Regions from separate parts of the Homo sapiens genome. Here regions 1, 2 and 4 are each linked to region 3. The links come from fine-mapping of genetic effects on gene expression. A gene starts in region 3. Each other region holds a variant in brackets. All regions are shown on one strand. Distances are from middle to middle. Region 1 overlaps LINC00989 (long intergenic non-protein coding RNA 989). Region 2 overlaps LINC00989 (long intergenic non-protein coding RNA 989). Region 3 holds the start of LINC00989 (long intergenic non-protein coding RNA 989). Region 4 has its middle 33 kb from the start of GK2.

The links. PIP is the estimated chance that this variant, and not a neighbour inherited with it, causes the effect.
Region 1: its variant is the best candidate, but not a certain one, in a credible set for the expression of LINC00989 in whole blood (INTERVAL, PIP 0.74).
Region 2: its variant is the best candidate, but not a certain one, in a credible set for the expression of LINC00989 in visceral fat (GTEx, PIP 0.66).
Region 4: its variant is the best candidate, but not a certain one, in a credible set for the expression of LINC00989 in whole blood (INTERVAL, PIP 0.52).

The regions. Positions count from the first base shown.
Region 1 is chr4:79,508,844-79,516,970 of GRCh38, reverse strand. LINC00989 (long intergenic non-protein coding RNA 989) reads right to left here. Exons shown (of 4, transcript NR_038826.1): 3 at 3,069-3,186. Among named protein-coding and RNA genes, the nearest start is that of LINC00989, 20 kb to the right of the region's middle. The variant C/T (reference allele first, on the strand shown) is at 3,521.
Region 2 is chr4:79,566,857-79,574,983 of GRCh38, reverse strand. The region is part of intron 3 of LINC00989 (long intergenic non-protein coding RNA 989); the gene reads right to left. All of the region lies in intron 1 of LOC107986294 (a long non-coding RNA gene), which reads right to left. Among named protein-coding and RNA genes, the nearest start is that of LINC00989, 78 kb to the right of the region's middle. The variant A/G (reference allele first, on the strand shown) is at 4,318.
Region 3 is chr4:79,487,724-79,495,850 of GRCh38, reverse strand. LINC00989 (long intergenic non-protein coding RNA 989) reads right to left here and starts at 3,258. Exons shown (of 4, transcript NR_038826.1): 1 at 3,077-3,258; 2 at 2,266-2,699.
Region 4 is chr4:79,437,150-79,445,276 of GRCh38, reverse strand. No RefSeq gene overlaps it. Among named protein-coding and RNA genes, the nearest start is that of GK2, 33 kb to the right of the region's middle. The variant A/G (reference allele first, on the strand shown) is at 3,497.

The DNA.
Region 1 (8,127 bases), 21 kb before region 3:
CAATTTAACATTTACTGAGTACCTTTTTGTGCCATAAAACATACTGGAACGTGGCATCTGCCTTGTGTCTTGAGGATGCTATATAAAGAGATAGATAAATATAGATGTAGATGGGAGCATTGATTTATAAAAATAAATGCAGAAATGAATATGTAAAAATAAATATAATAAGGTGATAATACAGTGTGGATATTTAGAGAGTACAGAGCTTATTTTGAAATGCTTTTTATTTTAATATATTTATCTTATTATTTAACAACTATTTATTTGTAAGCCTGGCATTACTGTTGTCATAATTCTTACATATTATAGAAACTTCAAAACAGAAGTGATTCCTAGATTCTGTTCAGTGTTAGAAATTGTTATTAGATTGAAGACCAATTCATGTCTTATGGAACAGCTCCATTTTCAGAAACGCACAAAAAATGTCTACCAATCAAATCCCAAAGAAGATCCATCATTCATTTATCTTGAAAAAATAAAACTTGCTCAGTTTAAGCTCTTTTATACTATACTTTTTAATTCTCTAATTCCAGATTATTTCTATTATTTTCTTCTCCAAATATAGTTTTTTTAATTTACTTTTTTAGTTGTTTTGGAAATAGCTGTGTTTTCTTTTCGACAATCTGAAAGCTGATTCAGGTGCTTTACTCTCAAATGAAAGGTCAGCATTTCTAGATTTCCCTCATGCAATTTTCTAACATTGTTACCTATTTTGTTTCAGTGTTAGGAGTTCTCTGACAAAGAATTTTAAAAACCAACCAATCCTAGGACATAGTGCGAAGGGAAAGAGGAGAGAGGCTAACTCTCTCTACCATTTGCAATGAAATCTCTGCTAAAGCTTCCTAGAAGTTGGTATGCCCAGTCCATCAGGAGTCATATTGTCTGATACTCTCTTAACTGAAATCTCGACTTCTTTATTACTTTGTGAAGCTCCTACAGCCACGTTAGATGAATTATCTGAAAAGCTATTAATAGGTTCATTCTGAATCCACCAAATAATCACATGTCCTGTCACAAGTCCATCAACGCTGGACTCATTGAAAATTCAAATCGTAAATTGTTTGCCAGGGAAATATGTGATCTATTTTCAGTGTGTGCTGGTGTTCAGTAAGATGCTGCAAAACTAGAAATAGAACACCTATTTTTAAATTGAACATAATATTTTCTTGAGCCACCACTAGATTCAATGCACTGCAAACAATGCAAATATGAATAAGACAAGCCTAACTCTCAAAGGTGGAGATTTCGAACTGATAGCACAGGATGTGTTTTTAAGACATGTGTTAAACAATCCTGTACATAATAAATGGTAGAGAATTTTGGTAAAGGGAGAATGAAGGGCTCATGGGTTCAGGGTAAAAAGGCAATTAAAGAAAGCTTCAAACATAGGTGACATTTGGGTTTGTCTTCAGGGAAAGACAGTGAGTGGAGAATATTTCAAGCAGCAGAAATCAAATGAGCAATAAAAGTAGAAAAGTGCAAATGCCTGATAAACATTTACTGAATGAAATGGTCCTAGCAACACTCAAATCTTTTTTCTTTTTTCTTTTTTTCCTTTTGGCAATGGTAAGGATTTCCTCATCTTAAACTCTGAATTTTGGGGATGTTGAGTGTATTTTATCACTTTTTATAACTGATTTCCACAGATAAAGTGGTTGTTTCCATATCTATCCATCTGCTAATCAAGGATCATTTTGGAATTAAGTGTAAGGAAAATTTTTTTAAAAAAGGAGACCATGAAGCTGTGTTACATCTTGAAGTGCATTAAAATATAAAAACAAAAAATAGGAACACACTCCAAATGACTCATTTGTTTTCCAGTATTCCAGAACTTAGTGACAATAACTGGCAGTAGAATAATTTCACAGTGTCATCCTGGTGGAACATAGGGTTCTCATAAGAATACATTTCTATCTCCTTCAACATCACTATTAAAATGACTTATTTGTTTCTGATTAATTAGGACCCGGTTGCTTCCTTCTTGGCATTGCGTTTTTCCTCCTGTTCATCTTCTGGACAGGCTAGATCTGCGTGGGCATGTACCAGTTTGTGAGATTCTGGATCAGAACTCAGTGGCTTTGCAACAGTGATAAACCTAACTTCTGGTAACTGTGAATTTGTGTTCCAAAGTGCCACAAACCGCATGGTAAGATGCCACAAAAAGGAGCAGTAACTAGGTCGAGGTTTTGGCAGTCTCCACGGAGCAGTAGCTCCAATACTGGCATGCCAGTGATTAAATAGAACTAAGAAATATTTTTTCCTTATCTTCCTTTAGCAGAACAAAAGAGCTCAGATTAACTGGTGAGGAGTGCAGAAGAAAAAAGAAATCTTTTTAGAGAAGAGGAGTGTAACTGCCAACTATCTAAAATCTAATTATTTATGTCCAGTATGAACAGAACTCAAATAAGGGTACATACCATGGGTATAGCCAGAGTGTGTGTGTGTGTGTGTGTGTGTGTGTGTGTGTGTGTGTGTGTGTGTGTGTGTGTGTGTGTTGGGGGAGGGGTTTCTGTTAGAAGGGGGAAGAGGTGTGTCTTCTCTTGCTTTCCCGCAATGCTGTCATAGCCTATGGTTTGCAGCTGTCAACAGAGTCTTCAGAATAATGCCATTTCCCTAATGCTATCATAGCCTATGGTTTGCAGCTGTCAACAAAGTCTTCAGAATAATGCCATTTCCCTAGTACTTTTCCTTAGATCATCATTAGGTAAGTGCTAAGACATTTGCTATTTTGGAAAAGCAAAGCAATGTGCTAGACTTGGTAGTATAACACTGAACTCCAGGAGAGGCTAAGCCTCCTTCCTGGGAGCATGATAGGAAGTTCACTGTAGAGCACACTAATCATAAGTGTCATTGCTGTTCATGTTTTTCATATTTGCCCCATGCAAAGATGTACCCAACTCCCTAATTCTGAGTGTACTCTTTCCAATGAGTTCATGACTCCCAATAATTAAAAACTAAATATGCAAGAAAGCAAAAGACTAAAACAAAACTGGTGAGCAAACAATTGAAAAAAAAAGCATTGAGAAAGCTAATTGACATGCTTTGTAAAATGCCAGAATTATTACCTTTCTGTGTGTTTAGAAAAGAAATTATCTTAAAATGTAACACTTCTTTCTCTATTCATCCTAGTGAATCCAGTCGACAGGATTTAGCGCTGGGAAGAAACCCAGAAGGTTTGAAATCCTGTAAGAAAGAAAAGTATATTTTTAGAATTATGGTAACAGCTGCTAAGAAATGTATTTCTATTTTGTAGTTAGTCTGAGCTGCCTAACATAAATGTGTGGTAGAAAAAAGATAACAGAGATAAGGCAAGTGGAGAGAATTATAGCAAAGTGAACACTATCTTTGGTTGTTGTTGAAGGAAAAATTGAGTACTAAAGATGGCATTTTATCAAAATAAAACTATATATTGTACATCTAAGAGCTAGAATTAGATGTCTATCCTCTCCCTCTCTCTCTCTTTTTCTCTCCATTCTTCTCCTCCCGTCCTTGTATTTCTTATCTATTTTTAAATCTT[C/T]TCCTAATGGAATCTTAGGGAGTATTAACATAATAATATCGATCTCATTAAAAACCACCTTCTAATGTTCCCAAATCTGCTACCAATAGTCAAATACATAACCTATCAAAATTTTACATTAAAAATAACAAAGATATTTAAATAAAGCTCTAAAAAGTCAATTATTTTGCAAATGACTAAATAAAAATTTTATTATTGTTTATTTTCTCATGCAATTTTTATTTCTTAGATTTTATTTTTAAAGTATAGGGTAAGTACAAAGTACAAATAGAAATAAAAATGCATTGCAATTTCTTCACATAATGAAATGGGTATAATATTTCATATTTTGTCTGCCTGTGATTGGGTTTGTTAAAAAATAGTGACATCGGCCATGCACAGTGGTTCACGCCTGTAATCCCAGCACTTTGGGAGGCCAAGCAGGCGGATCATGAGGTCGGGAAAGCTAGATCACCCTGGCCAACATGGTGAAACCCTGTCTCTACTAAAATACAGAAAAGTTGGCCGGGCGTGGTGATGCACGCCTGTAGTCCCAGCTACTCGGGAGGCTAAGGCAGGGGAATCCCTTGAACCCATGAGGCGGAGATTGCAGAGAGCCGAGATTGTGCCACTGCACTCCAGCCTGGTGACACAGCAAGACTCTGTCAAAAAAAAAAAAAAAATATATATATATATATATGTATATATATATGTAGTGACTTCACATATTTGGGAAATGGTTAAATATTATCAAACATAATATATATTTGTGTTATGTTTCTACCTCTTGGGCTTATTTTGTCCTTGGATTTGATGGAAAGGGCCACTTCTCCATATGAAAGAAAATGGATGCTTTTTCTTTGAGGACTTTTCAATCTAGTCTCCACTGGGAAACAGCCTGGGCTTGGTATCAAAATGACATAATGTGCATGTGGTTTGTTACCTAGGGGCTGCTATAGAAATTTAATTTATTGTCTCATAAATTAACTACATTAATAACATACATATTGTTGTTATGGTTAGTAACAATTATTAAATGAATACCTGGGAGGGTCAATGTTTTACAGGTTGAAGAAATCTCAAAAAATGCTCTTAATAATTATTCCTTGGTCTAGAAAAACACATTTTAATTAGTCCTTAATTTTGCTCTCCTAGATTTTCTTGGAAATATTCTATGGCTTTTTCTATATTCCATACACACATATAAAAGCCAGCACACCATATTTTTCTCATTCATATCCTAGACGATGAAATTTACCATCATTATCAATGATTACTCCTTCTACTCCCTTCCCCAACAGCTCAAATGTATGTGCTTATTCTCACTCCCTTTCTCTTTCACTGTGTCCTTCTTGTGCTATGCTGTTCTGAGCACCATAATTTTTACAAGGGAAAAATAAGTGGCTAAATAGTATTGGGACCTTTGAAATATTGAGCAATAATGATACATACATCTGCATGTACAAAATACCTATTTTCAGAAATACACTTTATGAATCAGAGAGAAGAGGATGAGAAAATAATATTCATCATGGTGGAAAGTTTGAAAACTGAAAGATTGGTTGAGAGATCAGACTTATTTGAAAAGAGCAGATTTTTTAAATGGTGACAATTCATTTAAAATTGCCACTGTTTAACTGTTTTTCTTCTCTCCCTAAATCCCTCCTCTTCACTGTGATGTATTCCATAGATCTGAAAGGGTACTCCTCAGAGGACTCAAAAGGTTTTTGCAATTTGTTTAACACATAGCTCACCTCCAACCCCCATACCACAACTTATTCCAGATTTTACAATGTTATTTTTCTCCTCTACTGGCAACCATTGAAGAAAAATAATTAATAATAATGTTGTTTGTATTTGACCATGATATATGCCCAGGAGCCACTTAAAAAAATACTGTCATCAACATGGTAGCCTGGGATAAGATGATTATAGGGAATCTTTGCACTTTATTGTTAGAACCATGTCTTACTCTTCCTTATACTCACAGCATCTATCAGAAGGACTAACGTAGCAAGAGATAGTCAAATATCTGTTGCACCAAATTTTATTTAATTTTTTATTTCCATTTTGAAATATAAATTGAACATTTCAAGTTTAATTTTCCCAATCAGTACTGTTTACTGAATTCCAAACATTTTCTCCCCAAATTAGTTACATGATCTAACAGAGACCAAAAAAAAAAAGTATAAAAGCTGGTCAACTGAAAGCCAGTTATGGACATTTGGTTGTTAATCAAAACATTATCTGTTATGTATTGAGTAATTCTATATGTTAGGGACTGTTTTAAGTGTTTTACATATTTAACCTCATTTAATCCTCAAAACAAAAGTATAAGGCAGGTACGATTATTATTTCTAATTTACAGATGAGGAAATTCAGGCACAAAAAAGATAAGCTACTTGCCCAACAGAGAGAGTCAGGATTTGAATCAATGAAACCTAAATAGAGAGTGAACAAATTTAAAACTAGACTTTCAGGTTTATATGACAACCTGGGACAAATTTGATTTTGATTTCCACAGTAGATAGTAGTATATATTTATATGTTATAACAGATTTGGTTTCCACAGTAGATAGTAACATATATTTATAATACCAAACAGGACACAAAGTTTAATTATTTAAACTTTCTTTTTCTATACTGTTCTGACCACCATAATTTTTACAAGGAAAAAATAAGCAGCTGAATAGTATAAGGACCTGTGGAATATTGAGTAATAATAATACATCTGCATGCACCAAATATATATTTTCGGAAATATACTTTATGAATGAGATAGAGAGAGGAGGATAGGAAAATAATATTCATCATGGTGAAAAGCTTGAAAACTGAAAGATTAGTTGAAAGATCAGATTTATTTGAAAAGAGTAGATTTTTTAAATTGCCACAATTCTCTTCTCCCTGAATTTGAGTCTCTGCTACTTCTCCCATCGAGAGAATTCTATTTCTCCATTTCTTGAATTGAATCTTGTAACTTGATTTGGCAAATAGAATGTGGTCAAAAGGATTTGCCAGTTCTGAGCCTAGGTTTCAAGGAGTTTTCCGTGATTCCACTCTTGCCCTTGGAGCCCTACAACTACCATATATAATCAAACCCTGCCTACCCTGTTGGTTGTGAAGAGAAATGTGGTCCAGTAGCACTATCACTCCACCCAACAACCAGCCAACTCCCAGAAACAGAGTCACCTAGATGACCTGCTAACTAAACATAAATGCATGGGCAGGTCCAGTCAAGATCAATCAGGCCTGGATCAGATCAACACAAAAGTCCATCTGATCCACAGACTTGTGAAAAGTAATACATTGTTATTATTTTAAGGATCTAAGTTTTAGAGTGGTTTGTTATGCAGTAATAGGTAATGATACAGCATGTATTACAATGACTTAGATATTGGTAGTCCCGCTTTAATGTGAAAATGTGCTTGGTATTTTCCTGGAATGCCATGACTCAATATCACTCATTTTTAACTGTTTAAACTTTTTTAACAAATCAAAATGAAAAGAAAATTTGCTTATCTGAGAAATTTCAGCTTTGCTGTCTACGGCAGTGGCATTACCATAATGATTTGTCATGCAATTTTATTTTCAAAGCCCAAAATTAATTACAAACATGAAACAAATCATGGTGTTAAGACATACATTAAAAACAAATTATGATCTCAAAATGCATAATTTACAGCTTGGAAAATTAATTGATTAAACCCAAAGTGCATAAAAATAATTGGAAAAACTGAGGACTGAACAAACCATTGACAATATTATCTAACCGAGCAGAGAATAATGTATAATGAGCAAAACTCACAGCCAAAAAAAAAAAAAAATCAATAGTCTAATTAAATCATAAGAACCTGGGTGAAGATAAGTTGAAATTCCAGTTTGGGGATATCTCTATATTACAGTGATGGGCACAAGAAATCAAATCCCATCTTTCCAATGAAGTCAAAATAGAAATTATAATATTGACATCAAAATCAATCATAATTTTTTAAAAAGATGTGCAATAGATTTTACATATTAAAGCAGCACTTTACACACGTAAGTAATTTAAATGTGCTCTATCAGTTATCTATTACCATTTATTCTATTCTTTTCATGTTCTTTTGACCTGGCTTTTGTGAAATATATACATATAAAATGTATTCAAGATATTATCTATAAATCAGAAATGATAAGAAAATAAAGCAAATAACACAGCATTTTTTATACCAAATAATATTTTGTTCTAAGCTTTTTAGATTATTTAATACCCATTTTAAGAATGATGAAGATTTGAATTTTAATATTTAGAACTAATATTATAGGCATTTAAACATATATGATGGTCAAAGAGTATGTTTCAAGCTATTGTCTACATGTTAAAGTTTTTAGGTAGTCAAATTTCCATTGTATGGTGTATAAAATGTGTTATGAACAACTTCACAGAGAAGTTCAACACAAATAAAACATTTAATAATCATTGTTTTCATAACAACCTTCAATTCTGCTTATATTTAATATTGAAAAATTGAAGTAGACTAGGTTATTCAGTTTATCCATAAAAGTTTCTATGGGCTCAACTTTTTACCAAAAAATTAAAACTCCATATTTGGATCCCCTTTGGTCAGAGTTTGGCAGCTTTTCAGAGG
Region 2 (8,127 bases), 79 kb before region 3:
CCACGCTTTCTAAGTCTTAATCCTGTGCTTGTTTCACGGCTCCTGTAACATTAGATAAGAAGCTTACCCTTGCTCTGCAAGGGTTCATATAAAGATTAGGATACTTCTGCCTATAAAACATGAGATAAAAATATAATGGCCTCATAGACTGAAACGATACACAATTCTAAATAAAAATCAATTCTTTATTTTGATATTCAAAGTCACCTACTCTTTATGACCACTACCCTCATTGCAAATGCCCCTATTCTGATGTGCTTTTCCATTAAATAAGATTTACACCATCCTTCTTTGGAGCCTTTGCTCATGCAGACCTTCTCACATTCCCTCTATTTTATTTCTCATTCATCCAATTCTCATTCATGCTTCAGAACCTTGCCTCTAACACCTTTCACCAATTAGCTCAGGTTTTCCTCTGACAGCTATTGTTGTAAACCTCTCAATTTGCATTTATGCATTCTTCATGTTATTTGGGAATTTTGCAAGTGGATATACAATTTTCACATGTCTGGATAGTAATCTCTTGAGATTATGAGTAGTCTTCACTATATATGTAGATATTAAGTGAGCTTATTTATATCAGATATAGACCATACAATCTCATCACTTATAGATGCTTTTTCACTGTATTGATAGATTAATGCTCCCCTTTAAACATACCTCTAAACTACTCAAACTCTATAAATGTATCTCCATATATCCCTGCAATTCTCTTTTTGAAACTAGAACAAATTAAGGGAATTGTTTCTAAAAATTTGAGCTTGAGGTAGAAAAGAGGAAGATGAAAAAATAATAAGTAACATTTTAAACTTTTTCTTACTCTGTTCTATATTCAGAAAATGTTTTAATGATACAATTTTGACATCAGTAGCAAGACAAATTTCCTTTCTTTTAATCACCAAGTCAAAGAATATTTCCATTGAGCTGGTTTCAATGAACAGAGAACTCATATATTTCCACTGACTAACAAAGGAATATTGACATCAAACATATATATTTAATTATGGATGAATATCAATACATGAGCATGGAGTCCTTAGGAAAATTACAAATGCCGAAGTACTTTGTAGAGTATTGCATAACTGATTTTATCAGGCAGAATAGCGGATGGATCTTATGCTCTAAATATTTAAATTTTGGGGACAACAAGTTTTCTTTCATGGTCATCATTTTTAGAAATCTTTCTATAACTTAGGGAAGTGTTATAAATAATACAGAGTGGGAATATCCTAGGGAGAAATGAGAATTTCTGATTCTAAGAGGGACAGTAAATAATTTCATCTCATGTACCAAATCTGAGTGGTTGGCAGTGGCTGTCGAGACTTTAGAGTGCTATGTTGATGAGGATTCTGGGTCTGGGGCCAGGCTCTGTCATGTCATGAGTGATTAGTAATGTTTGCAATAAATGCAGAATTGTAAGGGAAAGCACATATCATATTTTGCCACTGCTGCTGTATTGCTGAGATTCTGCCATTTTTTTGTTCTTCTTTGGTGTCCAGGAAGGGCTTAGACCCATGAATGTTAACATTATAATGCCATATGGGGACATACAGTAAAAACACATGAAAACCTCCATGTTCGGGGTATGCCTATCCTGGGATATGAATGGTAGTAGATCCTAGGCAGTGTTGTGTGAGTAACCAGATTGCCAAAGTGATGGGGCGAGGGATGGGGAGAAGGCATTTGCTGGTTTCCATGCTGTAAAGACTTTTGCCCTGGCTGATTCCAAGCCACCAATGTGAGGTCATTAAACTCAGAGCTGGAAAGACATGTGTATAGCCCAGGCCAGTATGAGGAGGCTACAGCCAACCAGTAATTATAAGTGAACTTCTAGGGTTCAGGGTGCTGAGTAAACCCTGGGCCATAGAATGGAGGATGGACATAGGGATCCAAGGAAGGACCAGAAGGCCATAGACAGATCAGCTGTGTGCAGCTGGGGAACAGTATCAGCTATAAATCAGAGCTCAGGCCAACATTTCAAAGTTATAACAACATAAGAATCAGTTTCAATGCCACCCTCCAAAAACATACATTTTACCTTATCTACCAATATAATGCATCTTCCAGGTCCATATGCTGAGACAGCATAGTATATCAGTAATGAGCATGTTTTTTGTTTTTGTTTTGTTTTCTTTTTTGAGAGGGAGTTTCGCTTTTGTTGCCCAGGCTGGAGTGCAATGGTATGATCTCAGCTCACCGCAACCTCCACCTCCCGGATTCAAGTGATTCTCCTGCCTCAGCCTCCCGAGTAGCTGGGATTACAGGCATGCGCCAACACGCCCAGCTAACTTTGTATTTTTAGTAGAGACAGGGTTTCTCCATGTTGGTCAGGCTGGTCTCAAACTCCCAACCTCAGGTATCTGCCCGCCTCAGCCTCCCAAAGTGCTGGGATTACAGGCATGAGCCACCACGCCCGGTCCTAAGTGCATGGTTTTTAGAGCCAGACACCATGGGTTTGAGTTCTAGCTCCACCATGTATTAAATATTAGCTCCGAAACCTTGAGAAAATTACTTAACCTCTCTGTGCCTCAGTTTTCTCATCTATTAAAATAGGGATATTAATAGTACCATCGGGTCATTTAAAATTAAATGACTTAGTAACTGTAAACCGCATAGAACAACATGTGCATTTACTGCATGGAGACTGATGCGTAAGTGCATAATAAAGGTACATAAAATGTAGATTTGCAACTTTTATCAAAATATCATTTTCAGTATATAATTTGCCCTTGAACTTAGGACAGAGGCACAGGATAGCTATGATAAAAATGCTCACTAGTGTAACTGATTAACTCTACATTTATAAGCATAACAATTTCACTTGTCTTTCTATATCATCCCATTTATCTTGGGAAGATAAGTAGGAATAACAATTATAATAGCAAATATACACCATTTTTAAAGTTCCATTTTATAGTAATTTAGATTTTTTATGGCAAATTTAGTAACAAGGCCAAAATTGAGATGTTTTTATTCTTACAGATTTCATTTTACATTGAAAAGTGGCACTGTTTTTCTTATGTTGAAGAGTTTACTGAAGAAACTTCATATCAGAGATTTAGTGTTTTAATCTATAACAGATTGTGCATATAATAAAGGACATTTTTTCCTATTGGAAATCTAAAAAATATGTCAATTTCTCAAACATAAATTCGTAAAATAAAAATTCTGGCAGTGGTCAAGCTCATTATACCACAATGATCCTGTTTTCCTCAGCAATAGATTTAACCTTCTAACTTTGTAAATTTCACATTTAGCCAAGTTTTTAGCTAAAACAAGTTGAAATACAGCAGAAAGAACCTTTCCTGCCAGTTCTATTCAGTAGCATGTTAATCAGATTGCAGTAATAAGTATGAAACAATGCATGCAATTAGCAGTGGTTAATTTGAAACTACTTCATGTCAGTTTCTTTCAGAGCAATACGTTAGTAGAGTAATTATTTATTACCCTGAGGACATGATCAATGATATCCTTCCATAATAACGTCTGCAAAAAGAGTAGGCATCTTCATTTGCATAAAAAGGAAGCTATAGAAACTGTTTTTTTTTCAGCTAAATAAAAGCAGAAAACTGTTTCTAAGCTCTTTCCAACCATTTCGTTAGTAGTAATAGATAAGCAAATCATTTGTTACACTTCAATATTTTTATGGTAACATAATGGTGAGGGGAAAAAAACAGCATTAATGATTTAAATCCACAAAGACTATCTTTACTGAGAAAGAGGAAAATGACCCATTTCTAAATGTCATTGTTGTCATTAATGTATATGTGCTAGTCCCTTCCACACACATGATAATTCACTAGTTCCTTAGCTGGAGCTTGAGGATAGAATTTATGGCAAGCCCTAAGTGATAGCAAACACGTAGTCTACACAGCTGAGCCATGGTTGAGCAAAGGCAAGAAAAAGATGTCAGTTTAACCAGGTGGCCACAATTAGATGGAGCAGTTAAATAATCGGGAAGGTGATATTAGAGGATACCATCTTGGCTTTCAGAGTCCACTGTGTATTAGGCAAGAAATCCTGTATGTCTTCATATCCAATTAATTCATCTTATTATATAAAATACCCATCTTTCTGAGGAGGACAAGAAAAATATCTCACCTTTGGAAGTAGTTAGTCTGGACAATGGAAGAGAGGAGACTGAAAAATGGAATAGGCTGGAAAGGCCTAGTACAGCAGAAATTGTTAGAAGGTGCACAAGTCTGAGAAGGATCCTCCACATTTTACAACCCCAGGGGCCTCCATTCATTTGGAGAATGGCATTCTACCAGTTGGGCAGTTGACAGCCTGCACATCTACATGTAAGGGACCCAAACT[A/G]AGACAATGATTTGGGGCAGAGGTCGAGGTCAAATTTCAAAGTAGGAGGACCAAATGAAAGACACAGGCAGGTTTTAGAGTTCAAGTGAGGTAGGGGTCTACAAATTCTATTCAAGATGTCCTCAGTATTTAGCCATTTGTGGAAGGATTTGTAGCTCTAATAGAGTCAAAGACAAAGCTAAACCGGTGAAATTACCAGTCATATTGTACCTTATGTACAGAAAGTCAGCAGAGTATCATGTGTGGAAGAAAGAAATTTTCAAATGTATAAAATGAAAATAGCCGGGCGCGGTGGCTCACGCCTGTAATCCAGCACTTTGGGAGGCAGAGGCAGGCGGATCATCTGAGGTCGGGAGTTCGAGACCAGCCTGACCAACATGGTGAAACCCCGTCTCTGCTAAAAATACAGAATTAGCTGGGTGTGGTGGTGCATGCCTGTAATCCCAACTATTCGGGAGGCTGAGGCAGGAGAATGGCTTGAACCCAGAAGGCAGAGGTTGTGGTGAGCCGAGATCGTGCCATTGCACTCCATTCTGGGCAACAAGAGCGAAACGATGTCTCAAAAAAGAAAAAAGAAAAAGTGAAAATAATAATCTTTAATAAAAATATTTGCTTTTAAAAGTTTTGAAAGGATTACATGAGAATTGTGTACATGGTGGACTTCTAGGTTACAACCGCTCAGCTCCTTTTTGTTTTTCCAGGAATAGTGTTCCCTTTCTATGAGAGCCATCCTCCTTCCACACCATCATTTCTGCTGGGTATTGTTATACTTGTATATTACTCAGGCAACTTGATCCTATATTATCAATGTGGGTATGGGAGCTACCTGCCCTGTCAGGCTAGTTTGAATTCCTTTTTGCAATGTTTTGCATTCAAATAGGGAAAGAAAGTAGCATCTGGTGTGGTACCCGTGAAATGTAAAATGAAGAACTGTCAGCAGCAATGTTACCTATCATATGGAGGAAGATGGTCTGCAGTAGGACAGAGGAGAGCTGGCATGGAGAGTAGGAGAGAGAAAGTCCTGATGAAATTCAGTTCCCTATCATTTTATTTTTATTCTTTTAGGGACAGGGTCTTGTTCTGTCATCCAGGCTAGGGTGCAGTAGCATGATTATAGTTCACTGTAACCTCGAGCTCCTGGACTCAAGCAATCCTCCCACCTCAGCTTCCTGAGTAGGTAGGACTACACGTGCACACTACTATGCCCCGCTATTTTTTTTTTTTTTTGTAGAGATAGGGGTCTTGCTATGTTGCCCAAGCTCTTCTAGAACTTCAAGCAATACTCCCAACTTGGCCTCCCAAAATGCTGGGATTACAGTCATGGCCTGTCCGCTTTATCATCTTATACTTGAGGCCCAGTGGAACCCTTGCTCTTCCTGAAGTTTATTTAGTCAACTCTTCTTTCAGTATTGTTACACACTCCAGTGTCCTTTCAATGAATCACCTTCTCTCCTTAAGCTACTTTGAACTAGTTATCTGAGTAAAGCAGAATGCACTATACTCTGCTTAGCATGAAACACATACTAGGTCTAAAGAAAAGAAAAGTTGAAGAAGAAAAATAGAAAAAAGAGCAACATATTGAACATAAAATCCTATTAAGCTTATAGATAGTTCTTTGTAGATGAGTATTTAATTGCTTTCTAGTTGTTTCAGGTATATTAATCACGCTTTACTAAATAGTATTTGACTCTTTAAAATAAGATAATATATATTGTATATTAACTTATCTCAAATAATATCCACTACAGTTCCAGCCTAAAAATAGTGAACAAAAAAAAGTAATTAATTTATCTAATAATTTGCTTTTGTCCATTCACTTTTTAACTTTTCTAAGACTCTGGGTTAACATTTAATGCACCAGAAGTAATAACTTCCTAATGATGTGTCAATGATAGACAAGATCTAAGGTACCTTTGGGGAGCCATTACCACTTTTCCATCAGATTTGGCACAATATGTGCATGACTCCGTGTGTTACTAATTTGACAAGAATGGTTTCACTTCATGAAAACCTGAAGCATAAAGTAGAATTTGGGGCAGCTTCTTAGTTTATCCACAGCCAATAAACTTAGTAAAAGCTAGAGTAATAGCCAAGTCCCAGACATCTAAGGAAAAAAGTCCTGAGAATCAAGTTGTTGAGATTTTTTAGACTTCTCATCCAGTAAATGGGATAAGTACAGTTAGCAGCAATAGCGAAATGTTTCCTACTTGATTTTATTAACTGATAGATATGAATTAATGCATTAAGATATTTGATTGTGTCATAAAATGTGTATATGAGCATCATGATTCAATTTAATGTACCTATTACTGGTTGATGTGCCATTATATTAGGCTAAATTAAAATATTTTATGGAAAAAAAATTAAAGACTCAAAATTGATTGCATTCATAACTTAAAAGAAGATATTCTGTTCCATTAATATTTTGAATAATTAAAATAATATATCAGAAAACAACATGGAAAAATTGAGAGGTAGACAAGGTAAAACAAAAAGAAGTAGATATAAAGTCAAAAATAAAGTTCACTTTCTATGTTAAATCAATATTTTCTCTTTAGCTCAAGTTTTTAAGAATGAAAGAGTAACAAAAGTCACATGGTTAACTGCTTGTCTCAGCAAGTAAGTTTTAGGTCACATTGTCATAAAAGATATGAATATCCCTCCTTTCCTCTTCCAAATTACAAAACAAGTTGATTCCAAATACAGCATTTTAATTTTTTAAAATAATGTTGTCATAGATAATAAGATGATACTTTGAACAGACCATGAGAACTCTCTTAATGCAACACGTGCCTTATGAAGTGTGGCCATTTGTCTAGGACTGAGGGATTTCTGTGTCATGAGACTTTCAGTGTTAATATGAGGACAATCCTCCTGGCAAACTGAGGTAGTTGGTCATCCTACATGAGCAAATTACTTAGCTTATTTGTAAACATAAGTATCCAGGAGCAGACTTTTTTTTTAATGTTGTGATTTACCCTTGAAGACTTAAATTTTCTTCTCTCTCATTTTAAGTAGATAAAGGCTGATTACTATAAAGATATATGGCATTGACATATTGGGATTTTTCTAAGATTTCTTATTTCTCTTAATTCTAAAGATCAGGAAATATTCTACTTTTCCTACTGGTAGTGTGGTCCATGGACCAAAAGCATCAGCCTGACCTAGGAGTTTATGAACAGTTCATAATAATAAAATTAAACCCAGGCATACTGAGAACACAGAATCTATATTACTAACAAATTCCCAGATGATTCATATATGCAGTAAAGTTTAAGAGGCACTGATCTAAATTCTTTTAAGAATTTTCTAAATGTACTCCAATTTTTCTCTATTGTCAACTCTTTTGAATTCCTGTCTAGTCCACTACAAAGCCAATACAGCCTCATTAGCTCAGCTGCAATTAATTTGAGATGTGTAATCATTTGACCTGGGTTGGACTGACAATTTTGCCCTGCAACCCTTGCCCGACATATGAAAAGGAGTTATCTAAGTTAAGAGGGCAGAGTTGGAAAAACCTACCTTTTTAACTTGTTAACAAATTAATTCTTCGCAAAGTATTGAATGCTATCTGGAAATTAAAATAGTCCTAACAGGACCTTTATTTGAAAACTTTTTGTTTGCAGGCAATTCAAATTAGTGAAAGAAAGAAAACTATATGGGATTAAAAAATATTTGCACAGCCATCCCCCAGTTGACCTGATGTTGTGAAGTTTGATTGAACATTTTAGCAACTCTTGTCTAATTAGTTAAGCTCATTTAACCTACTTTCCTGGTACATTATACTGCAAAATTCAGTCTAATTCTTGG
Region 3 (8,127 bases):
TCTGAGCTGTCTCCTTCCCTTAACTCCTACCCTCCAACACAGAACATGCCTGACATCAGACCCTTACTCCTGAGCCTTTTCCCACTTCATTCACCTGACAGCCTCCTCCACAACAGACATCTTATCAGACGTGACTGATTGCTATAATCTGTACTCTGGGCAGCCATTAAGCAAATTACCTGAATCATTGCAAGGATTAGTCTCATTAACACATGATTAGCATCAAATTAAAATAATGAGTGTTTAACTTCTGATGTCTTCCAGTTGTTTGAACAGCTTGATCAGCCACACCAGGCTGGCAGGGAGGTGGGGGTGTCAAAGAGCCACAGAAAAAAAGGGAGGCAGCACTGTGCAAGACATAGTACAGCTCACCAGTAGAATGAGGTAAGATCAGACTCAAACTGTCTGGATGAAAGGTTTCTTTCAAACAGCAAAGATGCCCGGTCCAAACAGAGGTGTCTCTCTCTCTCTCTCTCTCTCTCTCTCTCTCTCTCTTTCTCTCTCATTGGCACTGTACTCCTAACCATCCATCTGAATCAAGGCTTTACATACTAATGGTGCACAATCTCGCCCGCTCCACATCCTGGATATTTTATTTCCGCTGGGCTTCCCTGTCTCAGGAGCACAGAATGCAGCTTTTCTCTTTCCTTTTCAAAACTTTATCAGACTTAAGACCCCTAAAGTGCTGGGAGTATGGTAGACTGAAGATTAGAGCACAGATCCTCCCGAGTTCCCATATTTGTAGCTGGAAATGGCTGACCAAATATCAAAACAACAGGAAGTTTGCATCAGCTCTGGAAACTGTGAAGAATATCATCCACATATAGAAAGTTAAAATAATCTGCTAGATCCTACATAGACTGGTCCCAACTTACGATGGTTTGACTTATGGTTTTTTGACTTTAAGATGGGTTTATCGGTGTATTAAATGCGTTTAGACTAATGATACTTTTGACCTATGATGGATTCATCCAGATGTTACCCCATTGTAAGTCAAGGAGCATCTGTGCCCATGTCGAAGATTTGATGGAAGCCTAAAGGACCAACTCACTTTTGTCCTACCTGTGGAACATCAGCACTTATGGAAAGTAGGCGGGTAGCTTACAGTGACCCTTCCACTCCAAAACTTAGGGCACCTTATCTGTCTGGTGATGGTCAAGACAATCAGAGAGCCTGGACGAGCTCTTTTTGCCTGAGCTAGTGAATAAAATAAACAGCTGTTGTGATAAATTTCTCTATCATTCCCTTGAAAAAGATTAATATGAGGAGTGTAATGTTATGGAAGAAACAATCTAAGATCAGGAAAAAAATGTGAAGATAAAAATCATTGCTAATATAAACACCCACAGTTAGGTATTTCAGGAGAGGAAAACAACAAATCATTTCCTCTACTCATCTTAGGTTCTCCAGCAGAGGCCCTGTGAATTAGACTAGCCAAAGACAGATTAATTAGAGACAAATAGGCAGAAGTTTTCTCAGTGGCCTTTAACAAAAAAAAATAAAAATAAAAAAAAATTGTATTCCAAAGAGGCTTATTTTGAAGTGATATATTCCAGTACCCCTCAGAATACATTTCTGTCGTATGAAATAATCCCATGAACCATAAAGGAACAAAAAAACAGAATGTCTGTAGATCAGACTTTATTTGCAATATTAAATGCTAAGAAAAACAAAGGTTTACAGAGCTTTGGGCAGAAAAGATTGAGATCCAAGGCATTTTAGTTAGAAAAGCTCATATTTATATGCTAGAGCGACAGAAAGTTGTTTTTAGATACACTAGACTGAGAGGCAATGTCATATAAAATTCTTTGTGAAAAAAACTATTTGACTAGTCACTTAAGTCAACTAAGAAATAAATATAAATAACTCAGCAAATAGAATTCTTAGCTCTATAGAGTGATTAGCTTTAAAATTTCAAATGTAGTACTTACAAGATAAAAATACAAAATATTAAGCTAATAATTAATAATAACCTGGATCTGAAATCTGAGATTATATCAGCAAAACAGTGTGAAGGAAAAATAGTAATGTGAAAATTATGCCAAATGTAGCATCTGAGCTGGAGGGATGTGAATGATAATAGTTACTGTTTTACTCTGTTCATAGATGATGAGAGAAAAATAGACCCAAGTAAGTTTTAAAATGCTTAAAATTTAGAAAATTGAACTTTCTGTGTATCTGTATTAGTCAGGGTTCTCTAGAGGGACAGGACTAATAGGATAGATATATATATAAAGCAGAGTTTATTAAGGAGTATTGACTTACACAATCACAAGGTGAAGTCCCACAATAGGCCATCTGTAAGCTGAGGAGCAAGGAAGCCAGTCCAAGTCCCAAAACTTCAAAAGTGCAGCCTTCCGTCTGTGGCCAAAGGTCCAAGAGTCCAAAAGCTAAAGAACTTGGAGTCTGATATTCGAGGTCAGGAAGCATCTAGCATGGGAGAAAGATGAAGGCCAGAAGACTCAGCCAGTCTAGTCTTTCCAAATTTCTCTGCCTGATTTTATCCTAGTTGCACTGGCAGCTGATTAGATGGTGTCCCCCAAGATTGAGTATGGGTTTGTGTCTCCCAGCTCACTGATTCAAATGTTCATCTCCTTTGGTGACACCCTCACAGACACACCCAGGAACAATACTTTGCATCCTTCAATCCAATCAAGTTGACACTCAATATTAACCATCACGGAATCCTTTCCAAATCCCTAAAAGAAAAAATAATAATAATATAGTCAATATAATAAACATCAGCTAGAAAAGAAATAGGTGAGCAAAATAGAGAATCTCTGACAAGATCAGAAAGAATAATATAATTAGTGTAAAACGTTTTAGTAGTTCAATTAAAAACTAAAGTTTCTCAAATTAAAACATTATTTTAAAATCTTTACTTAATAGAAAAAGACCAAAAGTCAAATGTCAGAGAAGTAGTAAGAAATTTTTTAAATGGCAGAAATATATCATAAATACAAAGAAAAATAAGGAAATAATAGCAATCATAATGTAGAATAAAATATAATTCGAGATAAAATTGGTGAAGAATCACACCAGGAACATATCAGAAAAACCAAAAGAATTCACAGACCATTTGAAATAAGCGGCTTGCCACTGAAAACTCCATGAGACTGCCAAAAAACTGAGTGCCTGAAGTGTGAGAGGGGGAAATCCATCTCCAAACATACATCGGCCCTGGAGAACCTGAAAATCCAGAAGACGGGAGAAGAGTTTAACCTTACCTAGAGCTGAAATGAATTTAGAGAGCCCAGTGAAATAGAAAAGTAAAAGAAGTGGGAAAAGAACTGCAGGCACTCTTGTTCCCCAGGGAAGCCAAGGATAGCCATTTCTGAATTTATCTCACAGGGGTCCTTGAGGAGGGCAGCCAGTGGAATTGGGGAAGGTCCACAGGGAGAAGGAGACTTCCAGCTGAACTTTGTAATAATTTCCAAAGACGACAAATTTTCCTGGGCAGAGTCCAGGGGGTTGGGGTGTGGGGAACGGGAAGTACAGATAGGAGCACAGAAGCCGCAACAGGAAGGGAAGGGTGAGGACTGAAAGCCATGCTTGCTCTCTCAGCAGGGAGTCTTGTAGCCTGGGGCAGGATCTCAGCCCTGTGCACCAGAGGCCTGGGTATAAATTGGGCACTGTTGGCTGCTGGGGGAGTATGGCAGGAATGAGACTGGCCTTGCTGGTTTCATGGGAGCTGGGTAAGGCCTGTCACTGATGGCTTTCCACCACTTACCTGGCAACCTGTAGGAAGCAGCAGAGGCAGCCATAATCTCCCATGGAACATAACTCCATTGGCCTGAGACACACCCCATATCCCTCAAAGTGGCCACTGCAAGCCCAAGGAGAGTCTAGGCTGAGACCTGCCTAACCCTGCCCCCACCTGATGGTTTTCTCTACCCTTCCTGGTAACCAGAGACAAAAGATATAAACTTGTGGGAGCTCTATGGCCTCACCTATTACCTGAGACGACTGAATATTTACCCTGGCCAACTTAGGGCAAGCCTGTATCCCCCTTCTACTACCGCAGCTGATGCTCTCTTAAAAGTGCCACCTCCTGGCTGGAAGTCAACCAACTCAAGCCATTACAGCAACTTAGAACAATCCTACTCCAAGAAAGGAGAAAACACCACCTGTAACACCCTGGCTAACCAGAGGTCCTGAGTCTGTCCACATGACAGCTTCACTGCTAGCAAACCAGCATTCGAGAAAATCTGCACACTAAACAAACTACAACCAGCACTCTCACAGAGTCCACTTTGCTTCCCTGCTACCTCCACTGGGGCAGGTACTGGCATCCACAGCTGAGAGACCTGAAGACAGGTCTTCACAGGATCACATCACAGAAATCTTTGCAGACACTCCCCAATACCAGCCCAGAGCCCAGTAGCTCCACTGGGGGACTAGACACAGAAGAACAATAACAATCACTGCAGTTTTATTCTCAGGAAGCTCCATTTCTAGGGGAAGAAAAAGAACACCACATCAAGGGATCACCCCATAGGAAAAAAAAATCAGATTAGCAGCCCTTGAGTCCCAGATCTTTCCTCTGAAATAGTCTACCCAAATGAGAAGGAACCAGAAAAACAATTCTGATGATATGACAAAGCAAGATTCATTGACACCCCAAATGATCACACAAGCTCACCAGCAATAAAAAACAAACAAAAACAAACAAACAAAAAAAAAAACAAGGTAGTCAGGCAACAACTAGCAGGATGAATAGAACAGTACCTCACATCTCAATAATAACATCGAATGTAAAAGGCCTAAATGCTCCACTTAAAAGATACAAAATGACAGAATGGATAAGAATTCACCAGTCAAGTATCTGCGTCTTCAAGAGACTCACCTAACACATACAGACCCATATAAATGTAAGGTAAATGGATGGAAAAAGATATTCCATGCAAATGGACACCAAAAACAAGCAGAAGTAGCTATTCGTTTATCAGACAAAACCAACTTTAAAGCAACAACAATTTAAAAAGACAAAGAGGGACATTATAGAATAATAAAAGGACTAGTCCAACAGGAAAATATTACAATCCTCAATACATATGCACCTAAAACTGGAGCTTTAAATTTACAAAACAATTACTCCTAGAATTAAGAAATGAGATAAGAGGCAACACAATAATAGTGGGTGACTTCAATACTCCACTGACAGCACTAGACAGGTCATCAAAAACAAGTCAGACAATGGACTTAAACTATGCCCTAGAACAAATGGACTTAGCAGATATATTCAGAACATTCTACCAAACAACTGCAGAATATATGTTCTATTCATCAGCACATGGAACATTCTCCAAGGTAGATCATATGATAGGCACAAAACAAGCCTCAATAAATTTAAGAAAATCAAAATTATATTAATATGCTCTCAGACCACAGTGGAATAAAATTAAAAATCAACTCCAAAAGGAATCCTCAAACCATGCAAATACATTGAAATAAAATAATCTGCTCCTGAATTATATTTTGGTAAACAATGAAATTATAATGGAAATTTCAAAATTACTTGAACTGAATGATAGCAATAACACAACCTATGAAAACTTCTGTGATACAGCAAAAGCGATGTTAAAAGGAAGGTTCATAGCATTAAATGCCTACATCAAAAAGTCTGAAAGAACACATATAGATAGTCTAAGGTCACACTTCAAGGAACCAGAGAAATAAGATCAAACCAAACCCAAACCCAGCAGAAAAAAAAAAAAAAAAAAGAAATAACAAAGATCAGAGCAGAACTAAATGAAATTGAAACAAAAAAATACAAAAGATAAATAAAACAAAAAGCTGATTCTTTGAAAATATAAACAAAATTGATAGACCATTAGCAAGAATAACCAAGAAAAAATGGGAGGAGATCCAAATAAGCTCAACCAGAAACATAACGGGATATATTAAATCCAATAACACAGAAATACAAAAGATCATTCAAGTCTTCTATGAATACCTTTACACACACAAACTAGAAAACCTAGAGGAGATGGATAAATTCCTGGAAATATGCAAACCTCCAAGATTAAACCAGGAAGAAATACTCTGAACAGACAAACAACAAGCAGCAAGATTAAAATGGTTACAAAAAAACATTGCCAACAACAAAAAAAAAAGTCCAGGAACAGATGGAATCACAGCTGATTTCCATCAGACATTTAAAGAAGAATTGGTACAAATCCTATTGAAACTATTCCAAAAGCCAGAGAAAGAGGAAAGCCTCCCTGAATCATTCTATGAAGCCAGTATCACGCTAATACCAAAACCAGAAAAGAACATAACAACAACAACCAAAAAACTACAGACCGATATTCCTGACAAACATAGATGCAAAAATTCTCAACAAAATACAAGCTAACCAAATCCAACAGCATATCAAAAAGATAATCCACCATGATCAAGTGGGTTTCATACCAGGGATGCAGGGATGGTTTAACATCTGCAAGTCAATAAATGTGATACATCACATAAACACAATTAAAAACAAAAATCGTAAGATCATCTCAACAGAAAAATAAAAAGCATTTGACAAAATCCAGCATTCCTTTATGATTAAAACCCACAGCAAAACTGACATAGAAGGGACATACCTTAAGGTAATAAAAGTCATCTATGACAAACGTATAGCCATGTTATACTGATTGGGGAAAAGTTGAAAGTATTTCCCCTGAGAACTGGAGGAAGACAAGGATGCCCACTCTCACCACTTCTATTCTACAGAGGATGGGAAGTCCTAGCCAGAGCAATCAGAAAAGAGAAAGAAATAAAGGCATCCAAATCAGCAAAGAGGAAGTCAATCTGTCACTTTTTGCTGATGATATGATCATATACCTAGAAAACCCTAAAGACTCATCCAAAAAGCTCCTAGACCTGATAAACAAATTAAGTAAAGTTTCAGGATACAAAATCAATGTACACAAATTGGTAGCACTGCTATACACCAACAGCGACCAAGCTCAGAATCAAATCAAGAACTCAACCCATTTTACAATAGCTGCAAAATAAATAAAATACTTAGGGATATACCTAACCAAGGTGGTGAAAGACTTCTACAAGGAAAACTACAAAACACTGCTGAAAGATATCATAGATGACACAAATGGAAACACATCCCATGCACATGGATATGTAAAATCAATATTGTGAAAATGACCATACTGCCAAAAGCAAACTACAAATTCAATGTAATTTCCATTGAAATATCATCATCATTCTTCACAGAACTAGAAAAAACATATCTAAAATTTATATGAAACCAAAAGAGAGTCTGCACGACCAAAGCAAGACTAAGCAAAAAGAACAAATCTGGAGGTATCATATGACTTGACTTCAAATAATATTACAAGGTTATAGCCACCAAAACAGTATGGTACTGGTATAAAAATAGGCACATAGACCAATGGAATAGAATAGAAATCTCAGAAATACAGTCAAATAGTTACAGCAAACTGATCTTCAACAAAGCAAACAAAAACATAAAGTAGGGAAAGGACACCCTATTTAACAAATGATGCTGGGATAATTGGCAAGCCACATGTAGAAAAATTAAACTGGATTCTCATCTCTCACCTTACAAAGAAATCAACGCAAGATGGATCAACTACTTAAATCTAAGACCTGAAAGCATAACAATTCTAGAAGATAACATTGGAAAAACTCTTCCAGACATTGACTTAGGCAAACATTTCATGACCAAGAACCCAAAAGCAAATGCAACAAAAACAAAGATAAATAGATAGGGCTTAATTAAACTAAAAAGCTTCTACACAGCAAAAGAAAGAACCAGCAGAGTAAACAGACAACCCACAGAATGGGAGAAAATCTTCACAAACTATGCATCTGACAAAGGACTAATATCTAGAATCTACAAGGAAGTCAAACAAATCAGCGAGAAAAAAACATGTAATATCATCACAAAGTGGGCCAAGGACATGAATACACAATTCTCAAAAGAAGATATACAAATGGCCAGCAAACATATGAAAAAATTCTCAACATTACTAATGATCAGGACAAAAAAAAGATAAATAGATGGGAGTTAATTAAACTAAAAAGCTTCTGCACAGCAAAAGAAAGAATCAGCAGAGTAAACTGACAACCCACAGAATGGGAGAAAATCTTCACAAA
Region 4 (8,127 bases), 51 kb after region 3:
CTTCTAAGTTATGAACCTGGCAACCCATTTAGGTCCTAGGGCTATCAAATATATCTTTTGATTTTTTTTTTAAATCAAAGAATCTTATCATTCAGTATATAGAGAATAACCCTCCTTTAAACAAGAATATAATATGGATACCTACCTAGACTCTACCTTAATAGAATTACCTGAAGTTTCAAAAACAGGTATCTGAACATTTGGATAAGACAAGATATGCATGAAATTTCCCTCTATTGTCCAAACTAATGTTACCAAAATTGCTACTTGATGACAAAATAAGTTTATCCAGAAAACTGAAAGTGAAATGTCGGAGAATAAACTTATAAAAGCTATACTAAGTTAAGCTGGGCACAGTGGCTCATGTCTGTAATCCCAGCACTTTGGGAGGCCAAGTGCCAGGATTCCTTGAGGCCAGAAGTTCGAGACCAGCCTGGGCAACATAAGCAAGATCTTATCTCTACAAAAACATTTTTTAAAAAATTAGATGGGTGTGCTGGTACACGCATTTAGTCCCACTACACAGGAGGTTGAAGTGGGAGGATCCCTTGAGTCTCCAGGAAGTCAAAGCTGCAGTGAGCTATGACTGTACCAGTGTACTCCAGCATGGGCAACAGAGCTAGACCCTGTCCAAAAAAAAAAGAACATGTTAAGAATGAGAGCAGTGACAGCAGTCTTACAAGGGCAATGTCCAATAAGAATCTTGCATTTAAGTAGCACTTTTTTTTGTTTCACAAATATTATATGTCTTACTATCAACAAGCACTCTAGTAGGTACTGGGATATAAAACATTTCGGGGAATCTCGTAGTAAAAATATGTTAATCCAGGAGATTGCAAGACAACTTTCTCTATAAAATAGTCAGTTTATCATTTCATGCAATGTTTTAAGAGTGACCACCGTCCATACCATGAGATGTATGATAATTTGGGTAAAGGGGAATGGGAGGTTGGTAAAGATATAAGAAAAACAAGACACAAATCTATGTTTGTCTCTCTGTTTGCCTATATGTCATCTGTCTCTCTATTCATCTACCATCTATTATCAATTGTGATGGTTAATACTGAGTGTCAACTTAATTAGATTGAAGGATGCAAAGTATTGCTCCTGGGTGTGTCTGTGAGGGTGTTGCCAGAGGAGATTAACATTTGAGTCAATGGGCTGGGAAAGGAAGGCCCCTGCCCCCATAACCTGGGTGGGCACCATCTAATCAGCTGCCAGTGTGGCTAGAATATAAAGCAGGGAGAAAAATGTGAAAAGACTAGACTGGGCTAGCCTCCCAGACTACATATTTCTCCCGTGCTGGATGCTTCCTACCCTCAAACATCGGACTCCAAGTTCTCCAGTTTTGGGGCTTAGACTGGTTCTCCTTTCTCCTCAGATTGCAGATGGCCTATTGTGGGACCTTGTGATTGTGTGAGTTAATACTTAATAAGCTCCCCTTCATATATATATATATATATTCTATTAGTTCTGTCTCTCTCTAAGAACCCTAATACATCAATCTATCTACCTATGAAACAACAGAAATGAGAGATGCTAACTTTAGTTAGAAATGTAAAAAGCATTAATTATATATCAAAATAATTTATACTTTTTTCAGGAAAGATAGACTTGTAGTTATTTTTTCAATGATGTGGGGTAATCCTATTTCTTTTCACAATCAATGGGTAAAAATGAAAAATATAAATCTTTTTTTGAAAGAGTAGGTTTTGAAATTAAATATATAATCAGTTTCAAGTCTCAAACTAAAAGAACAGATATTAATATTTTAGAGCCTAAGAGTAAAAGAAACCTTAATTTTGGTGCCATACTTCATAATACGTATTTAATAAATATAATAATGTACAATGAGGCAGGGCTAGGACCCTTGTGAAGTGAACCATTGGCCAAATCTCAGCAATATGTAGTAATTTAATAATAAAAGGAATATGACTTTGAAAACCTTGTAGCATTAACAAAGTACCAAGATGATTAAATGGCTTTGATGCATTTAAGATAGACAGAGGTATGATAAAAGTAAGTTTTGGGGACCATAGTCATATTAAGTCTATAAAATTCTTGCATACACTTACCCAAAAGTCATTTGCAGCTTTTTCCCTCCAATTAAATGATAGTTCCAAAATGCATTATTCTTTAAAATTATTTTCTATACTTTAAATTAGTTCAACAAATTTAAAATATAAATTTGTATACTAATAAAATAGATTCTAAATTACTCCTTAGTCTATGTTTATTTTAGATTTTTTTCTTTACATAAGGAAAAATAGTTCTGAATTTGTCATTCTTTCAGATGTCAAACAAGAAACTTTTGAACATAAAAGAAAAGCATATTATTTACTTCAAATATAATTTTTAAACTAAGATAAATTTAAATTTGGATATTAATATCCACAGAACACTTGATTCCTTGGCCACTTGAATGAGGAGTTTTCAACGTAATTGTTCATGTTTTTGATAATCTCTGGGACTCCCTCCCTCTCCACCAGTAAGTGCATAATAGGTACAACATATTTTGGATGAGTGAAGGTTTCTGCATTTATTGGCTTTGCTCTATTTACATACTTCATAAAATGGCCAGTTTATTCAGAAATATATGACTAATCACTTACACAATAGTGACAGCATTCCTAACTTCTTTCGCTTCCTTAGAAACCTTCAACACTACTAAATCCAAAATATGTAAATGACCAAGTGTATTAGTCTGTTCTCATGCTGCTATGAAGAAACACTTGAGACTGGGCAATTTATAAAGAAGAGAGGTTTAATTGACTCACAGTTTTGCATGACTGGGGAGGCCTCCGGAAAATTACAATCATGGCAAAAAGTACCTCTTCACAGGGCGGGAGAGAGAAATGAGTGCCCAGCAAAGTGGTAAGCTTACCCCTTATAAAATCATCGGATCTCATGAGAACTCACTATCACAAGAAAAGGATGGGGGCACCGCCCCCATGATTCTATTATCTCCACCGGGTCTCTCCCATGACACGTGGGGATTATGGGAACTACAATTCAGGATGAAATTTGGATGGGGGCACAGCCAAACCATATCATCAAGTACATATAATATTCATTCACTTTTGTTCTTAATTTTGTCTTTAATTTCGTTAAGTTTTCTGTGGATTTGGTGGTACCATTATAAGCCAGATCCTTCACTCTAGGCAGACAAATTTACACAGATATATTGGCTAACAGTGGATTTTATAACTCTGTAAGTTGGACTGAGATGTGTAATAAAAATTAGTAGATTCCCCCAAATATCAATTTAATTGATATTTTTATGTAACTGCTATTAGTTTATTACAGGATTAGTTGCTTGTTTCCTTACTTACTATCAAATAAACAGAGGATACACTGATCTTATTAAAAACTTATGCTTACAACAGTTTCTTATTTTTCAAAATATTTAATTTAGAAATTGAATGCTTTTCAGGAGTAAACCATTAATTCATGATAGAAATACTTCCAGTCCTTTCTCTTTCACCCCAATGTGCAA[A/G]AACTTCAAAAAAAATTTGCCTTTAATCACATATTAAATAGACTTGGCTGTACTTTTAGCAGAAACTGTCGTTTTACAAGAAATAAACTATTTTCTACTGTGAATTTCACATGCATTTAATTCTTCACTTGGTTTTGAGAGAACAGATGATAATTTAATAGTACATTTCTCCCCAAAACACAATATTAAGTGAATCTCACCTCTTTTATGCTTTTTGAATTTTTTAGAGTTTTGATTCCAATTATAAATTCCTTATGCTTTTATTTATTCTTCTCTATGGTTGAAATTTTGTTTGAAGCAAGATAATGGCTTATCCATTAGGTGACCATATGTCTCAATTTTCCTGAGACAGTCCCAGATTATATCTATTAACTAGGCATCCATCCAGGTTAGCATTTTTTCCTCTAAATTTTGTGTTTACAAAATAATTACTGTCATTATTAGATGCATAAAATAAGGCAGAATGACTTACACCTCTCTCCTTTTCTTCCAGAATTTTCCATGATTTCACCTAGTAGTTTGCGAGATGCATTTGCAGCAACATTGTGGTTAAATCTAAAGAGTGATCAAGAATAACCATCTCTCACCTTTCAATATTTTCAACATGCAATATAGCAAGCAACTCTCTTTTAAGGGAGACATACCGAGCATGCAAAGATCAAATAGCTTAAATTGGAAGACCAACAGCCAGGAACAATTAACTCTTTCTGGTATTGGGTGGTAGTGAGGAAAGCATTTGTCGAGGCTAAACCAGATGTTCACTTAGGGTTCTATCCAACTGTTTTGCGGCACATGCCACAACCTAGAAGGTGCATGAAGCCATGAGGCCACCAGTAGTTGAGGTCAGAAGAAATGTACAGGTTACTTTTGTATGCAACTAGCCTGTAACTACAATGTATATAGAAAACAGAGGCTGAGTAAATCTGTTGTTAACTATACAGAGTTGTGCTGTCCAATAGATAGCCACTAGCAATGACTATTTAAATTTAAAATAACTAAAATGAAATAAAACTAAAAATTCAGTTTCTTAACCACATTAACCCCATTTTAAGGACACAATGACCATATTTGGTTAATGGCTATGACTATTGGTATGAAAAATGTGTAACACCCAAAATTAAAGCAACTAAATATATAAAGCAAATATTAACAGAACTGAAGGAAGAAATAGGCAGCTATATTATACTAATAGTAGGGAACTCCAATGTCCCACTTGCAATAATGGATAGATCATCCAGACATAAAATCAGTAAAGAAATAGTGGACTTGAACAACACTATACGCCAAATGTACCCAACAGACTTATATAGAACATTTCATATAACAGCAGCAAAAACACACAATCTTTTCAAATGAAAGTGGCATATTCTCCAGGAGATTGAAATCACATCAGGCATATTTTTAGACCACATTGGTAACAAACTAGAAATCAATAACATGAAGAAAATTGGAAAATTCAAAAATAAGGGAAAATTAAACAACCTATATCCACACAATCAATGGGTCAAAGAAGAAATCAAAAGAGAAATCAAAAAGCATATTTATAAAAAGAAAAATGAAAACACAATATACCAAAATTATGAACTGTAACAAAAGCAACTCTAAGGGGGAAGATACAGTGATAAATACCTACATTCCTACATTAAGAAAGAAGAAAAATCTCAAACAACCTAACTTTACACCTCGGATAATGAGAAAAAGAACAAACTAAGCCCAAATTTAGCAAAAGGAAGAAAATACTAACTTTCAGAGCAGAAATAAATAAAATAGAGGCTAGAAAAGCAACACAAAACATCAAAGAAACCAAGTGTACGTTTTTGAAAAAATAAACAAAATTGAGAAAACTTTAGATAGACCAACTAAGAAAAAAAAGAGCGAACACTTAAATAAATAAAATCATTAATGAAGGAAGAGACATTACAATTGATACCACATAAATACAAAGAATCATAAGAAACTACTATTAACTACTTACAATAGCAAAGACATGGAATCAACCTAAATGTCCATCAGTGGTAGACTGGTTAAAGGAAATGTGGTACATATTCATCGTGGAATACTATGCAGCCATAAAAAAGAATGAGATTATGTCCTTTGCAGCAATATGGGCAGAGCTGGGGGCCATTATCCTAAGTGAACTAGCACAGGAACAGAAAACCATTTCTATACAAATAAAAAAAAGTAAAAATAAGAAAATAAATAAAATAAAATAATTAAAAATAAAAGACTTATAACTAATGAGGTAACTTAGGAAAGTATCACTATACAGAATCAACATACAAAAATCAGTAGCATTTCTATACACTAATAACAAATTATCTGAAAAAATCTGGAAAACAATCCCATTTACAATAGCTACATATAAGTAAAATATAAAAATTAGGAACACATTTAACCAAGGAGGTTGAAAAAAATCTGTACACTAAAAACTATAAAACATTAATGAGAGAAATGGAAGAAAACACAAATAAATTTAAAAATATTCCATGTTCATAGATTGGAAATATCACTATTAAAATTAAATGCCTATTTTAAAATGTTAAAATGTCCATACCACCCAAGCAAGCTTACACATTCTATACAATTACCACCAAAATTCCAATAACATTTTCACAAAAATAGAAAAACATAATCCTAAAATTCACATGGAACCACAAAAGATACCCAATAACCAGAACAACCTTGAGCAAAAGAGCGAAGCTGAACTCTTCACACTTCCTGATTCTAAGGTTTGCTACAAAGCTATAGTAATCAAAACAAAATTTTACTGGCATGAAAGCAGACATGTAGACCAATGAAACAGAACAGGTAGCTCAGAAGCAAAGTAATGCATTTACAGGCAACTGACTCACCTTTGACAAAGATGCCAAGAACACACAAGAGGGAAAAGACAGTCTCAATAAATGGTGTCAGTGAAACTGGATATTCACATGCAAAAGAATGAAATTGGGCCCTTATCTCATACTATAAAGGAAAGGGCTTCTTGATATTGGTCTGGGCAATGATTTCTTGGATATAATCCCAAAAACACAGGCAACAAAAATAAAAATAGACAAATGAGATTGCATCAAACTAAAAAGCTTCTGCTTAGCAAAACAACAAGCAGAGTGAAGAGATAACCTATGAAATGGGAGAAAAATATGTGTAAACCATACCTCTGATAAGTTAATATCCAAAATGTATTAAGAACTCAAACAATTCAATAGCAAGAAAACAAGCAGATTTTAAAATGGGCAAGAGGTAAATAGGCATTTCTCAAAAGAAGACATAAAAATTGCCAAATGGTACATGGAAAAATGTTCAACAATAATCACCAGAGAAATGCAAACTAAAACCAAAATAAGATATTACTTCACATTTGTTAGAATGACTACTGGAAAAAAAGACAAAAAGGTAACAAGTGTTAGTGAGACTGTGGAGAAAAGAGGACCCTAGCCACTGGTGATGGAAATGTAAAATAGTACAGCTGTTATGAAAAACAGTATGGACGTTCCTCAAAAAACTGAAATTAACTATCGTATGATCCAGAAATCCTACTGCTGGATAGATATACAAAGGACATTAAATCAGCTTGTTGGAGATACAGCTGCACTCTTACGTTTATTGTAGCATTATTCCCAAAAGCAAAGATATGAAATCAACATGTGTCCATTGATTAACTAATGGATAAAGAAATGTGGTATATATACACAGTGGGATACTTCTTAGCCTTTAAAAAGAAAGAAATCTTGTCATTTGCAACAACATGGATGAACCTGGAAGACATTATACCAAGTGAAATAAGCCAGGAACAAAAAGACAAATGCCACATAACCTCACTTGTAAAAGGAATCTAAAAAAGTTGAACTCATAGAAGTGGAGAGTAAAATTGAGGTTATTAGAGATAGGAGGTAAAAGATTGAAAGAATTAGAGAACTGTTGGTCAAAGGATACAAAATTTCAGTTAGACAGAGGTAATAAATTTATTATAATATCCATATAAGAAATACCGTAATGACTATAGTTAATAACAATATATTGTGTATTTGAAAAGTGCTAGCAGAGTAGATTTTAAGTGTTCTTACCACAAAAGAATGATAAGCATGTGAGGTAAAGCATATGGTAATCAGTTTTATTTAGCCATTCCACAATGTATACATATATTGAAACATCATGTTGACACCATAAATGTAAACAATTTTTATTATTTAATTAAAAAGTAAAGAACCTCTTTGTTCATACACACAAAAAGATTTTAGACTTTATAATAAGAATATTCTTGTACAAGTCTTTTCTTTATCTCTTCAATACCTAAAAGTAGAGTTGTGATACATGGGACAGATGTGTTGTACCTTCTCACCATCAATGTATGAAAATTGACCCACACCTGTAACATCTGGTGTTGGCATTTAGTGGATGTGAAGTGGTAACTCATTGTGACTTTACATTTCCTTAAGGACTAAGGCACTTTTCATGCGCTGAAGAACCTTTTCACATACTTTTTGGCTCTTTTTATGTCTTCTTTGTGAAGCATATTCTGTTTGTCTTTTAATTAGCTTATTTTATTGACTCTTTGGAGAAGTTCTTCATATGTTCTAAATGTAAGACCTTTCATATTAGTTTTTGGCTTGTAAGTTTTGATGAGTAGAAAA